Linked DNA regions of Homo sapiens. The protein of the gene in region 2 interacts with the protein of the main gene of each other region in a pairwise test. Each region holds a gene or a part of one and is shown on either strand. Other genes may lie near its edges.

The links. The genes of interacting proteins can lie anywhere in the genome.
Region 1: the proteins of ZNF572 (region 2) and NEFL interact in binary tests that used the Homo sapiens proteins (3 or more experiments, as listed by UniProt).

Annotation. Positions count from the first base shown.
Region 1 is NC_000008.11:24,953,613-24,961,158, forward strand, and holds the start of NEFL (neurofilament light polypeptide), read right to left. Parts: upstream 3,001-7,546; 5' UTR 2,904-3,000; coding exon 1,860-2,903; intron 694-1,859; coding exon 569-693; intron 256-568; exon of another isoform or gene 184-255; coding exon 1-183. UniProt on the Homo sapiens protein: Neurofilaments usually contain three intermediate filament proteins: NEFL, NEFM, and NEFH which are involved in the maintenance of neuronal caliber.
Region 2 is NC_000008.11:124,968,888-124,976,355, reverse strand, and holds the start of ZNF572 (zinc finger protein 572), read right to left. Parts: upstream 3,062-7,468; 5' UTR 2,940-3,061; intron 751-2,939; 5' UTR 716-750; coding exon 637-715; intron 9-636; coding exon 1-8. UniProt on the Homo sapiens protein: May be involved in transcriptional regulation.

The DNA of each region.
Region 1 (7,546 bases), about 100 Mb from region 2:
TGCTCCTCTTGGACATGGCTGGTGTAGTAGGACGGGAAGGAGCGGGTGGACATCAGATAGGAGCTGGTCTGTAAACCGCCGTAGGCAGATCGGCCAAAGACCTGGGAGCTCTGGGAGTAGCCACTGGTTATGCTTCCCACGCTGGTGAAACTGAGTCGGGTCTCCTCGCCTTCCAAGAGTTTCCTGGGGATGCAGATGCAAGGTGAGGTTAAAAAACACCTGTGTTTCACAACTTGCTCTGAGTACCCTAAACACAAAGGCAAGCAGGAGCAGGGCTGGGATTTATCAATACTTAATGCCTGGGGATCTTTTGATGGAGACCAGAAAAAATATAAATAAATCATCCTATTAGATTTAAAGTGTAATGACAAGATAAAAACAGGACTCCTAATTACAGGGTTAAATTCTTATATATCTAAATACCCTCTTCTTGGAAGAAGCCAAAAACTAACACTTCATTATTTCAAAAGGACTATTATTGAAGGTTTCTGATCCAACATAACTTTAAATGGGATCTGATTTTCTTCCTAAGGTTTAATGGCTGCTGTCTTTGCCCCTCTATTTTCACCTGTAAGCTGCAATCTCAATATCCAAAGCCATCTTCACGTTGAGGAGGTCTTGGTATTCTTTTAGGTATCGTGCCATTTCACTCTTTGTGGTCCTCAATTCATTTTCTAATTTGTTGATCGTGTCCTGTTTGAAGACAAAAATAAAACAAAAAAAAAATCCGAGCATAAATCCCTTCTATTATTTTACTGTAGTGTAGTTGCAAAGGCCTAGTTTCGATTAAAATCAAGGTGCACACCTTTGATAAAATCTCTCCTAGAATAACTTCCTGTATCTTTTGAAAAACCTTCATGCCTAAAATACCCAAGTTCATGAAGCCTGAGATGAAAAAAAAGATGGACGAAAATTCTGTTCTTCTGTTTCTTTACTTAATACTGTTTAATGATCATCATAAAATGCATGCAAACAGACTAAGTTGATAGAAAAACTGTGTCTCTCATTCACTGATTAACTCTTCTTTAGCTGGGTTACATGCCAGGAAACTAATGCCTTTCTTTATGAGAAGAAAATAGCCAGATGTAAACAAAAAAAAGAAAAAAATTATTTTCTATGAAATATTTCCTATGTATCTAAATTATTTTTTCTACTCCCCAGAAGAAGAAAAAAATTTCTACTCCCCAGAAGATGGAGATGTTTTAAAATGGAGATCTTTTTAAAATTGTATTTTTTCTACTCCCCAGAAGATGGAGATGTTTAAACAGAAATGTTGTAGAAGATTTTACACATAAAGAAAAAAAGAAAAAAAAAAGGTAAAAGGAAATGGTTTACTATGAACATCACTAGTTAACTACCTAAAACAATGTTGACTATTTTCCTGTCTACCTACTAAATAAAGGAAGGGAGTGGTTGGTAAAACTAGTCATAAAGCATGCTGGTCACAGTAATCCTTCAGAATTAATTGAGAGTTGTTCACTCTACTATTTATTAACTAGATGATCCGATAGTTGCTGCAAAGTAACTTGTGGTTAATGCAGGTCAGTAGAGAGCTGATCTCACTGCAGGCCGGAGGCAACGCCCAATTCCCACGTCTTCCCCTCCCCCACCCAACAAGGGCTGGGCAGCTTTAATGCGGAACGCCGGTGCAGCAGCACGGAGCACACTCCCAGACTACAGTGGCGCCCGCACTCACGCCCTTCAAGTGCCCCACCCCTCCCACACAGTGGCCAAGGAGCCAAGCCCTATCCCTAAGAGCTGCGTGCAGCCGCACCACCCCTGGTCTCCACTTTCTGGGCGCACCAACTCCCCCCCTTGCTCGAGTCCCCCGCCCCCCTGTGTTTCTGGCCGTGCCGCACCTGCATAGCGCTGATGTCGGCGTTCTGCTTGTCCTCCAGCTCCTGCAGCTGCTTCTCCAGCGCTTCATTCATGCCCCGGCATGCTTCGATTTCCAGGGTCTTGGCCTTGAGCAGACGACGGCTCTCGGACACCTCGTCCTTGGCGGCGCGCACGGCGTCGGTGTTCTTGGCGGCGCTCTCGGTCAGCACGGTGAAGCGGCTCTTGAACCATTCCTCAGCGTTCTGCATGTTCTTGGCGGCCAGCTTCTCGTACTGCGCGCGGATGTCCTTGAGCGCGGCGGAAAGGTCGGGCTTGGTCACGTCCATCTCCACGGAGATCTGCGCGTACTGGATCTGCGCCTGCAGTTCGGCGATCTCCTCTTCGTGCACTTTCTTCAGAAAAGAGATTTCGTCCATCAAGCTGTCGATGCGCTTCTCGAGCTCGGCGCGAGCGAGCGCCGCCTCGTCGGCGCCTTTGCGCGCTTCCATCAGCCGGCCCTCGGCGTCCTCGCGGCTCAGCACCTCCTCTTCATAGCGCGCCTGCAGGTTGCGCAGGGTCTCCTCCAGCCCTTCGCGCTCGCCCTGGAGCGCCTGCTTCTCGTTGGTGGCATCTTCCGCCGCCAGGCGCAGGTCGCGGATCTCCTGCTCGTACAGCGCCCGGAAGCGGGATGGCTCGGAGTGCTTCTGGCGCAGCACCAGCAGCTCGGCTTCCAGGACCTTGTTCTGCTGCTCCAGCTCGTGCACGCGCTCGATGAAGCTGGCGAAGCGGTCATTGAGGTCCTGGAGCTGCGCCTTCTCCTGCGTGCGGATGGACTTGAGGTCGTTGCTGATGGCGGCTACCTGGCTCAGGTCGAGGTTCTCCAGACTGGGCATCAACGATCCAGAGCTGGAGGAGTAGCTGCGGCGCACGGACAGCGAGGAAGACACCGGCGCCGAGTAGCTGGAGTAAGCTGAGCGTGCGGTGCTGTAGCCGCTGCGCACGCTGGAGATGTGCACCCGGGGCGTCTCCACGTAGCGCCGCTTGTAGGAGGTCGAGTAGTACGGCTCGTAGCTGAAGGAACTCATGGTGGCGGCCGGTGGCTCCCCGGCCCGCGGCGGCGGTGGGAGCCCGGAGAGAGAGGACAGGGGAGAGAGGGAAGGGGGAGGATGGATGGCTGTGTGCGGCTCGGCGCCGTTCTGCCACCCCTATTTATACGCCGGGAGGCTCCTGACGCAGCCTGCGATCGATCACGGCACGCCGGCCAGTGGGGGCAGCGCGCTGCTGCAGCCAAGGCGAGGATTCTGCGCAAAAGGGAAGGCGGGGTCGAGCTACGGCCCGAGGAGCTGCGGCGGTCGTCCTTTCCACTTTGCTCAGAGGGCCCTGATTTTCTCTGAGATCCCATGCCCCCTCACTCATTTCCCTTCTGTACTCACTCACGCAGCCCCTCCCGTCCTGCATTGCCCAGACCCCGTGACACTTGGATCCTTAAGTTGCCCCCAAAACAGGTTCTTGCTCCCTTTTGACACCCTAGTTTTCTGTATCCCGTCACCTCGCAGACACCCTGTCCCCCCAACTCGCCCTTTTCCCACCAGGAACCTCCTTAATTTTTTCCCTTGGTGTTTACGGTGATGGTGCGGCTAGGGAATTTTAGATACAAATAAATAGGCTAGGTTATGTGTATGCAGTATGTATGGAGAAGAGTTTTAATTTCTTTCTAGCTTTCTGGCACTTTCTGCAATTCATCTTCCTTTCTCCTGATTATTTTTCTTTTTCTTTAATGAGCTGCTTAACACATAGGGAATGTGCGCGCGAGTGCGCGCGCGCGCGCGCACACACACACACACACACACACACACTCGTGAAACTGCGGCACTACTGCAGGTATTGGTTTAGCATTTTTAAACCTTTACAGCAGTTAATCCGCCTGTTAGTGTTTCTAGATTTTCACATTTCTTAACTGAGAATGAAGCCGCAGATGGCTTTAACGTGTTGCAGTGTGTGGGTGGTGGAGGGCAGAGAAAGAGTTGGAAACACAGAGACTGACTTGCTGAGGCAGCCGCGCGCTCCGCAGCCGGGAGCTTCAAGCTGCCTGGATCCTCACCAAGCTAAATTCCTGCTTGCTACCACCAACCGCAGCACATTTAAAGTCCGCTTTCCTCTTTTTACACATGTGTAGCACACGACCTGATGATTTCGATAAGCCTTGCAGTTGGCTGATTTTCAGGGAAGCCGCTGCGGCCAGCCCTGAGCGCTGGGTGTGGTCTCTGGGGAGGAGAACTCGGCACCCAGGCTTCTTCAGGAACGGATAGAAAATAGCCATAGCCGCGTGACTCTTCCCCCGATACAATGTAATAACCCGAAAACAGATGCAGTCAGGAATGCATGGATTTCCTTCAGGAAGCACCCAGATGCTTGAAACTGGCGCACGCGGTAGCGCACGTGGATACAACCCTACGGTTTGCAGGGCATTTTCACACGCATGATGTTAGGAGTCCCCCAGGTTTCATGGAGGGATTGCAGAGATTTACACGAAACACCTAAGATTTATCTGAGCAAGCATTTAGTTTTTGTTTTATTTGTATATCGCAGCATTTGATGTGCAACTTATGTTTTTTTTAAGAGGCAAACTGAGGGGGAATATGGTAACTGTTTTCAAATAGAGAAGCCGGAATGGCTTCCCCTGTGATACTTGGAGGGTGAAGTATTTGCAGTGGTGCAGTTGCTTCTGGAGACATTTCACTCCTCTCCCGAGGAAAGGATGGGGTGAGGCTTATCCTCAGAGGCCCTTTCTCATCCCCCCCCCCAAAAAAAATACCTGTGATTGTGATAGCCCACCGTCCTCATGATAGACTGCAGCAGATAACTTTCCTCGGGTTTCTAAACAATGTCTGTTGTCGCAAATAATGCAAATTCACAAATATTGAAATTAGTAGTTTAAATCTATCAAGACTAAGTGATCTCAGAGGACCATCCATGCCCAAATATTCTAGATTTCAAGCCTAAGGTCATGAGGCTGTCCTGAATATTGTTTGTCCCTGGCAGGTTTGGTAGGGTACTTACTCTGTTGACTTTTCATAGCCTAGCTATCCTTGGTCTTTTCACTCATGAAATTCAAGGGTGGAATAGGCTTCTCTGGAGGCGGAGGGTGGAACAAGGACCCAGATAAGCCATAGAGTTGTCTCCTCCCAATTACCCATATGTAGATGAAGCATGGCAGAATGGATTATTTTGTTAACCTGCTCCCTGCAAACCTCATTGTTCCACACTCAGTGTGTGTGAGTCTGCATAAAACACACTCTCAGGTATTTATGAATTCGTTTCCTTTGTGCCAGCTGTCTTTCCCCGGAGTTTCAGGTCACCCTCAGATCTTAAGTCCATCAGCGTTTTTTTTCTTTCTTTCTTTCTTTTTTTTTTTTTTTTTTTTTCTTTTTTTCCGCGGCTCCTCCCTGAAGCCTTTGACTGCAGAGGAGGCTGCCCAGAAAGGAGAGGGGCGGCGGGTGCTGCAGAGGGATGCTTCAGAGAGAAGAAACCATTGGGGCACCTGCTGCCTGCCGTCCCCTGGGTAGCTGGAAAAAAGAGGAACACAGGAGCAAAGGGTGAGAATGGGACCCTTTCCTGTGCTGAACCCGGCCCACAGAGTGGGGGAAGGGGCAGATCCACAGCGTTTAGGCTTATCGATCTCTGGTCTTTTTAAATATCTCCTGGCCTGGCCACCTCATACTCCACGACAGCCTTGCTTTGCAGGACTCCCGAATCCAGCCGGGGTCTGAGTTTTGGTTACTCTATCTTCAGCCTTCCTCTGCCAGGTGCCTGCCTCTTCTTTAATATTCTGTCCAGTCATCCTCCTTTTTGAATCCTCTTTCCAGCATTTTGCTCTAAAAGCACACATGGCATTGCTTTGTGTGGCAAAGCAAAGTGAACAACTTTAGAAAACCTATTTAGGTAGAATATATATATTGACTTTTTCTTTCCCTCACCATAAATGTTTCTGATTAGTGCTGTTTGTAGTAGAGTCGCAGTCTCTTTAGAAGGAGGCTTTTGAGTCTTGTCACACCCTTATGCATTTATTCCCCTTTAAACATATTCTCTGCAAACCTGAACTTGGTTGAGGGCTATCAACAAAACATGCTCCTGGGAGATTAAAAATATGGAAGTATGTTGATGACCCCTTTAACAGAATTCCTACCACTCTGGTTATCCCTAATACTTCTGTAACCCTCCAAAGAACTGTCCCAGGTCATTTAGTTAAAAAGCAAATATCTTCACAGTAATAATAATAAAAAAAACATAAGGCATAACTCTTAGAACCACTGAAAACATTCTACTTCTCCAGTGCCAGCAGAGCCTGAAAGTTTCAGATAGATGGGACCTGGCGACTGATGACTTTTCATTTTATTATTCTAAAGCCATCTGAGAAAGCAGGAAGTTCTGTATTGGCATGTGTTTTTGAAAAGGTCAGCTTTAGGGTAGGGCCCATGAAAAGCCTCAGTCCAAGAGTCAAAAAAGTCAAGTTCTCCTACCACCAATAAGCTCTGGCAGAAGTCCTAGGACAGAACAGCGGATGAGTCGGCCGGGCGCAGTGGCTCATGCCTGTAATCCCAGCACTTGGGGAGGTCGAGGCGGGTAGATCACAAGGTCAGGAGTTCGAGACCAGCCTGGCCAATATGGTGAAAACCCGTCTCTACTAAAAATACAAAAAAATTAGCCAGGTGTGGTGGCACATGCCTTCAATCCCAGCTACTCAGGAGACTGAGGCAGGAGAACTGCTTGAATCTGGGAGGCGGGGTTGCAGTGAGCTGAGATCGCGCCACTGCACTCCAGCCTGGGTGACAGAGTGAGACTGCATCTCAAAAAAAAAAAAAGAAGAAAGAAAAGAAAAAGAACAGCCGATCAGCAGATGAGTCTCCATCCATCTCACCACCAGGTAGATACATCAGTGTCACCAAAGCTGGCATCGGTACGTGGATGCAAGGAAACCCAGTAAATAAATGCATGCAAGATACCTGCTATATGACAGGCATTTGCTATCTTGTATTGAATAATGACAAGATCACCTGGAGATGGTCACTATTATTCAGAGCAAACAGCTGAGGCCCAGAGAAGTAAGTAATTTGCCAACTCACACAGCTCCTTCAAACCTAAGCTCCACCTGCTTCCAGACTGAGGGTTCTACTCATTCCACAAACTGCAGCCATTGGCATTTACTGCTTCCTTATGTCTCTGTGGAATTTGATAAGCGAAGTCTGCCATCTGCAGAGTTTAGCGTGCATATAATAAACCTATCCTGCTTTGGGGACACCAATTTGAATTCTTCTGCACCATGAGGAAACCATTAACGAGCATGCTCCATTTGGGCAGCTAGTGGCAGCAAAAAACTACATGATTGTTGTAGGTTTCTCAAATATCCCAATGTAAAATAAAATGGGTGTGGCCAGTGGAACATGACACATAACTGGCACTGTAACATTTTACATGCAACTCTAAACATCAATTTACAAAACACCCTTTCAGGAATTAATAAGCTAAAATGCAAATTAGCTGACCTAACTCTTTAAAATGGCCACATCACGACTTCCACTTTTTTTTTTTTTCTGATTACAGTATCTTCATTTTCCACCCTTGTAAATGGGTTTTCTTTGGAAACGTGCCCTTAAAAGTTGCTCTAAGGAATAAAAGAAAAAAATGCTGGCACTGAACACCTCATTATTGGAGTTTATAATGCTTTCTG
Region 2 (7,468 bases):
TGTATCTCCTGCAAGAATAAACAAATATTCTAACCATATTCCAAATCTCTGCCAGAGAAGTAAATTCTAAATTGCAGTGGAAGAGAGGAAATAACACTGTAAAACCTCATAAATAATTTCATATAAAAAAGTTTTTAAAGACAGTTTTACTTCTTTTCCTCTGTTTACCAGAAGCAGGTGGATTTTTTTTTGTACCTAGCAACAACAATAATGAATTATTTGAATCATTATTGGCAAAGGGAACATCAATCTAAAAATAAATGCATTAGGTTTTGTTCTAGAAGACTTAAGAGAAAAAACAGGATTGATGTGAATAGAAGTTAAATTGAACAGGATACCATCTCAGGTAAAAACTAGACAATAGCTTTGCTAAAATCTGAGCAAATGCTATAGAAATAACAATAGCCACTATTTATTAAGAACAGTAGCTTTGGATACGGTATCTCACTAATTCTAAAATATATGTGAAATAGATATTATTCATTTTCTTAAAGATGAGAACAATGAGGCTGAAATAATTAACACAGCTTATAAGTGACAGAACAAGGAATTAAATTAAGGTTTGTCTCATTCTAGTGTCCTGTTCTTTCTACATCAAATTTCCTAAGGATTCAGATCATCGTCTTGATCCCTCACCTGTGAAAGGGCTTTTCAAACTCTCCCTCTCCATAAAGCTGTTAGAATCTGAGACCAACAGTTTTTTTTCTTGCTCCATCACAATGATCACAGCCAAGTTAGAGATCAGAAACCCTGTGGAAGGAAATAAATTATGTTTGGAGGTATTTGTTAAAGCTTATTCTTCCTCCTTCCTTCCCAACCATTCCAACACAACAATAGGAGGCATAGAATGTTCCATGAACCATACCGAAAATAAGAAACACAACTTTTAGCAGCCCTTTTAGAAAATCTTATCTCAGATCTAAGTGTTTAGAATTAAGGGTTAACCCTGAAATAACAATGCAAAAAAGTAAATCTTCACATTAAAGGTCTGAGGATCAAGCTTCAAAGACAGAATACTAATCCTCATTGTCCACACGTAGCTTAGAAACACTTTTACTTTAAAAAGCAAAGTATTTTTTTTAAGACACCAATAATAAAACTTATAAAGACTTCAAGGAATCAATATGAAGGCATAAGCAGCAGCTAAAGAAAAAAAGCACCCTGTTTAGTTTCAAAAGAATAACTTGGTCTTGACAGAAGGAAACCTTTGAAGTCAATTTCAAAGGAAAGTTAGGATTTATATAACCAGTAAAGAGAAATTAGGACAAAGCCGAGGTGGAATAATTATAGCCAATAACCCTGCAATATAAAAAGGAGGCTAAAGAGGGACCTCTTCCTCCTTGCACTTAGTTCCTAAGTCTATCATATTCACAATATCCATTTCAGCCTAAACTTCGTCTTCTGGAGCCAACAATCACTAACCTATTTTAAGGGACTAGAAAATGTTCCATCCTGGCTAATGCGGTGAAACCCCATCTCTACTAAAAATACAAAAAATTAGCCGGGTGTGGTGGCGGGCGCCTGTGGTCCCAGCTACTCAGGGGGCTGAGGCAGGAGAATCGCTTGAACCCAGGAGGCAGAGGTTGCAGTGAGCCGAGATCGTGCCATTGCACCACTCCAGCCTGGGTGACAGAGCAAGACTCTGTCTCAACAAAAAAAAAGAAAAAAGAAAAAGAAAAAGAAGAAAATGTGATCTATCACAGGAAGGCAGTGACATATGGACTTTTGGCATCCATTTCAGAATATAAAGAGTATCATTATTTGGGAGAAAAATAAGGACGTAAAAGGATATACAAATGCACACATTTTAAAAACAAAAAATAGTATATGTACTTATATTGTATCTTCACCATTACTGCCTATTATGTGCCAGGTAGTGAATGAAATAATTTGCACACATTTGTCATTTAATTCTTACAGTAGCCCTCTGAAGTGTATGAACAACTACCAGCATTTTATAGGATGAGTTTGAAAGGTATTAAGAAACTTTCCTAAGGTCACCTAGAAAGTGGTAGAGCAGGACTGAGCTCCAAGTCTGTTTGGATGCTGACCTTTTTCACCCTCTGATCTATTATCGTAAACTAGAACAGGAAGCAGAGCTGGGCATAATCCCAAACTGCAAAGAATCCTCAGAGTCCCTTTATTTTAGAATATTTAGAATACTGGCATTTTAAAACAGAGGTCTACATTCCTAAACCTTGTTAACAAAGTGAGTCGACATTCCCTAAGCACACTCAGCAAGTGGGGATTTGTTCTAGAGAAACGTGAAACTAGTCTACATTACTAATATCCCCAGTGTTTGAGTTGGGGGGGAGAAAAAACCATACACCTGAATGCAAAAAAAGGAAGGGGGTGGAGTTGTTCGAATGGAGTTATATATTTTGCTGTCCTAAGTTACATATTGTTATCAAAGTATTTACAAAAGCAGCAAGAGTCTGGGCAACACATTACCATCTCCCCCATTTTCCCTACTAAAATACTATTAAATTTGGCAGCAAAGGAGCCCCCGGAACAGTGGCTCAGCAAAATGGTGGCAAATGCAAGACCATACAAGGCTGCCATTAAGATGTCTCTCCACGGGGAAGGAGTGTTTTCACTGTTCTAGAGCAACAATGTGATCAGAGTGGGGCCGTGCTTTGATCAGAAAGCCTTCAAAGAAAATGCACTGCCTGAAGCCTAGTTTTAAGAACCGCTGGCTGGTACAAGTTGGAGACGCTGGGGGGTGAAGTTCCAGGATACCAGACGGTCTCCGGCCGACAAGATCCCGTAAGGGACCCCGCGGACAAGGATGACGGTGGCCCGTCGGCGGGAGATGCTGGGCCTTCGCCCCTGGCAGCAGCGGGAACTCTCTCCCGGACGTCCACTGCAGCCTGGACGGGGCTGTTTCCACTCCTCTAGCCCGCAACCCTCGGCTCCCTTCCCCCCAAGAAGGAACTCACTGTTCTGGGTGCTACACCCAAGGCGCCCTGCACCCCCAGCGGTCCGGGAGGAAGGTACCCCCTCTCCCTCTGACCCCACCAACCCAGGGTCCTAAACTCTCAAACCCGGAAGGCAGAAACAGGAAGTTACCCTCATCTCCCCCGGCGGCTTTGCTGGGGCCGTTCTAGGAAACAGTGATGGCCCACTCTCGTTGATCTTAACCCTTAGGGTCCTGGACCAGAAGGAGCGTGGGGGTGGATTTCCTTTCCCTGTGCTGTGACCAGCCAACTGTGAACCTCATTTCTCTCACTTGTCAGGCGGCTTACGACAGGGGCCTGATTGGAGCTTATACTTTTCCTTGCCATCAGAATATCATCAGATTAATTATCATCACTATTAGAATCAAAATCAATCTAGTATTTTTCTTTTTTGAGACGGAGTCTCGCTGTTGCCTAGGCTGGAGTGCAGTGGCGCGATCTCGGCTCACTGCAAGCTCCGCCTCCTGGGTTCACGCCATCCTCCTGTCTCAGCCTCTCGAGTAGCTGGGACTACAGGTGCCTGCCACCATGCCCGGCTAATTTTTATATTTTTCGTAGAGACGGGGTTTCACCGGGTTAGCCAGGATGGTCTCGATCTCCTGACCTCGTGATCCGCCCACCTCGGCCTCCCAAAGTGCTGGGATTACAGGCGTGAGCCACCGCGCCCGGCCTCAATCTAGTATTTTTAAACACCTATTGTTTCTGTTCCCACCGCTATGAACATGGATATATATTTACTTACCTGTGAAAGTTAGAAAGCTAAGGCATCCATTCACATATAAAACAATTCGTTTACAAGGCACCCTTATTAACACCTAGAAAAGTAGTTAATCCCTCCTCTTTCATTACAGAGAAAATAGAAGCCAATCCCTTCATCTCACCTCTACCAAACAGAAATCTACTCAAGTCTGCACCCTGCCGTTTTCTTTCTTCCCTCCTGTTACAATACAGAGTCCCTCTGTGACCTTTTTTTTTTTTTTTTTTTTTTTTGTGATGGAGTTTCACTGTGTCACCAGTCTGGAGTGCAATGGCAGGATTTCGGCTCACTGCAACCTCTGCCTCCCGGGTTCAAGCAATTCTCCTGCCTCAGCCTCCCAAGTAGCTAGGACTACAGGTGTGCGCCACCATGCCCAGCTAATTTTTGCATTTTTAGTAGAGACTGGGTTTCACCATGTTGGCCAGGATGGTCTTGATCTCTTGACCTCATGATCTGCCCGCCTCAGCCTCCCAAAGTGCTGGGCTCTTTGGTATTTTAATAAGCCCTTTACTGGTACTCACTTTCCTACCTATCTTCTTGGAAACTTCGCACTACCAACTAAACTCTCCATCCCTCCACCCCCATCCCCAAATAGTCCCTCAGCTTTTCTTTTCTCTTTTTACTCACAATGTTTCCATTTCATCAATTTTCCACTAACCTTAACATTTCTCCTGCAACAACAACAACAAAAAAATCACTAGCATCACCAATGACCTCCATGATGTTAGTTAGTGCAACTGGTATTTTTAGTTCTCGGGTCCTTTTTCAGGAGGTTTGATATGGCTACGGACTCGTCTTCTAGAAACACTCTTTTGAGGTGACATCACATTCTCCTCCTTTTCTTCCAACATCTCTAGTCAGTCCTGTTAGTCTCTTTTCCAAGTCAGTCCCTCAAGATCATCCTCTCCTCTTATCACTGAATGTTCTCTGCCTAGGCAATCTCATCCACTCCCACATTTTCAAATACCACCTAGGCAGACAACTCAAAAATTTACTTCTCCAGCCCAAGCTACATGTCTGAGCTCTTCACTCATAACCAATGGTCTATTTGGCATCTCATACAGGAAGTCTCAATAACACCTCAAAACCAAAATGTCAAAAATCAAAATCATAATCTGTCTTCTCTCTCACTGTTCTTCTCCATATACACATATAAACACAAAATAAAACAAAATAAACCTGTTTCTCTTCCAATATTCTTTCAACCATCCATCCAGTTATATGGAAACCCAGAAGCCCTTCTTTTCACTTCCCTTTCCTTACCTTCCATATACAATTCATAAATAAGCCTCATCTGTTGTGTAATAAATAATTCTCACCTGTAGTTGTTTCTTCTAACCACCAGGGTCACCTCTAATTCAAGCAACCATCACCCCCCATTTGAAGGATTTCCATACCCTCCTAACAGTCCCATAGATACCCATCCTTGCTCCCTCTCATTCACTCTTCCCTGTTGAATCCAGAGGGATCTTTTCCAAAAATGAACCTGATTCTTCCATGTTCCTTTGCCTAATTGAAGCTTACTCATCCTTCAGATTTCAGCTTACACATCACTTTCTCACAGAAGCTTTCAAGGCTCTTCTACATGCTCTTCTCCTACCATATCTTTTTTTCCATTTTAGCCCATGTCATGACTGCAGCTTTGTGTGATTGATGCATTATTTTGCCTCTCCATCCAGATAGCAAGCTCCATGAGAACAAGGCCTGCCTCCACTTTTGCTTGTAATTCTATCTTACAACTTAGCACAGTGCCTGACTCCTTCATTCATTCATTCAACAAATATTTGTTGAAAGCCTACTATGTGCCTGTTACTGTGTTATCCTAGACACTGAGGATACACCAGGGAACCAAACAATGTGAGGGAGATCATAAATGAACATCAACAAAAAGTAAACAAAGAAATGTATGTTAAGCAGTGATGAGTATTAGAAAAAGAAGTAAAGGAAGTTAAAGGAAGTGTACTATTTCAGGTAAGGTGATCAGGGAAGTCCTCTCAGTAGGCAGATATTTCAGCAGAAGTATGAAGGAAGAAAGTCGTGGGCCTCATTGTTATTTAAGGGAGGAACAATTAAGACAGGAACAGTAAGAAAAAGGACTCTGAGATGGAAACTCAAGAAACAATAAGGAGCAGAGCAAGTGAAGTGAACAGTACTTGGAGGTAAGGTCAGAGAAGTTTCAAGAGGTTAGATCATAATCATATAGGCCGTAAGTGACAGACACAGAGATGAATCACTCAGAATCCAAGGAAGTACATGTTGCCCACCTTTGAGAGTGCTGTGAACAGAAAGCTTTCAGCTGTTAGCTCCCTCAGGGAGTGCTTCAGTTTCAGAGAATAGCCTTTCTGGAGCTCATGCCCTTTCCAAGGCAGCCCACGTCTGGGGACTGATCAAGGCAGAAATATAAAAGGCTGTCCATGTTGTCCAAAGCAGGATAACTCTTAAATGCACTATTTCAGCTCCTGAGTGTTGTTTGTTTGTTTGTTTTTTAAGACAGTCTTACTCTGTCACCCAGGCTGGAATGCAGTGGCACAATCACGGCTTACTGCAGCCTCGACTGCCCAGGTTCTAGCAATCCTCCCATCTCAGCCTCTTAAGTAACTGGGACTAAAGTCACGTGCCACAATGCCTTGCTAATTTTTTAATTTTTTTTGTAGAGAGGGGGGTCTCACTTTGTTTCCCAGGCTGATGTGAACCCCTGGGCTCAAGCAATCCTCCTGCCTTTGCCTCCCAAAGTGTTGGGATTACAGGTGTGAGCCACAGTGCCCAGCCAACTCCTGAGTTCTTGATGGCCTTGATGGAGGAATGTGTTGTCAGGCCCAAATTGTAGGTCTTCCCCCTCTGCTCAATCCTGATTCCTTTCTCACCCTTCCACAGGTTTGGATACCAAGGCCATTTCCTAATCAACACCCTGGACACTAAACTCAGTCTCAGAATCTGCTTTCTCAACAAACAAGCAAATGAACAAAAACCTCCAAAATACATACATAAAATGAAATGTCCTCTCTCATCCCTGCCCCCAGCTATCCAGTTCTTCTCACCACTGGGGCAACCAACGTTGTATGTTTCTTGTGTATTATTCACAGATAATGCCATATGTGAGCAAATACCTACCTACCTGCTTATATACATATGTATATATACACATATATAGGTAATGAATAAAGATAGATGACATATATTCATACATTTCTTTTGCTACACATATAGTAAACTATTCACTTTGTTCTAAATTTTAGTTTTTTCACTTAACAACATGGAGAGTTTTCTTTTCTTCTCTCTTTTTTTTTTTTAATTTCTGAGGCAGGATCTCACTCTGTCCCCCAAGCTAGAGTCCAGTGGCATGATCTCAGCTCACTGCAACCTCAACCTCCAGGGCTCAAGCAATCCTCCCACCTCAGCCTCCCAAGTATGTGGGACCACAGGTGTGTGCTACCACTCTCAGCTCCAAGCTAATTTTGGGTTTTGGTTTTTTTGTTGTTTTTGTTTTGTTTTGCTTCGTTTTTTGTAGAGACAGGGTCTTACTATGTTGCCCAGGCTGATCTCCAACTCCTGGGCTCAAGCAATCCACCTGCTTCAGCCTCCCAAAGTGCTGGGATTACAGTCATGAGCCACTGCACCCAACCGAGAGTTTTTTATAATAGTACAGACATTTATCATAGAGCTCCCAGTATTCTTTTTTTTAACAGTTGCATGATATTCCATTGGGTAAATATAACAGTATTTATTTAACCTGTTTTTTATATTGCTTCTGAAC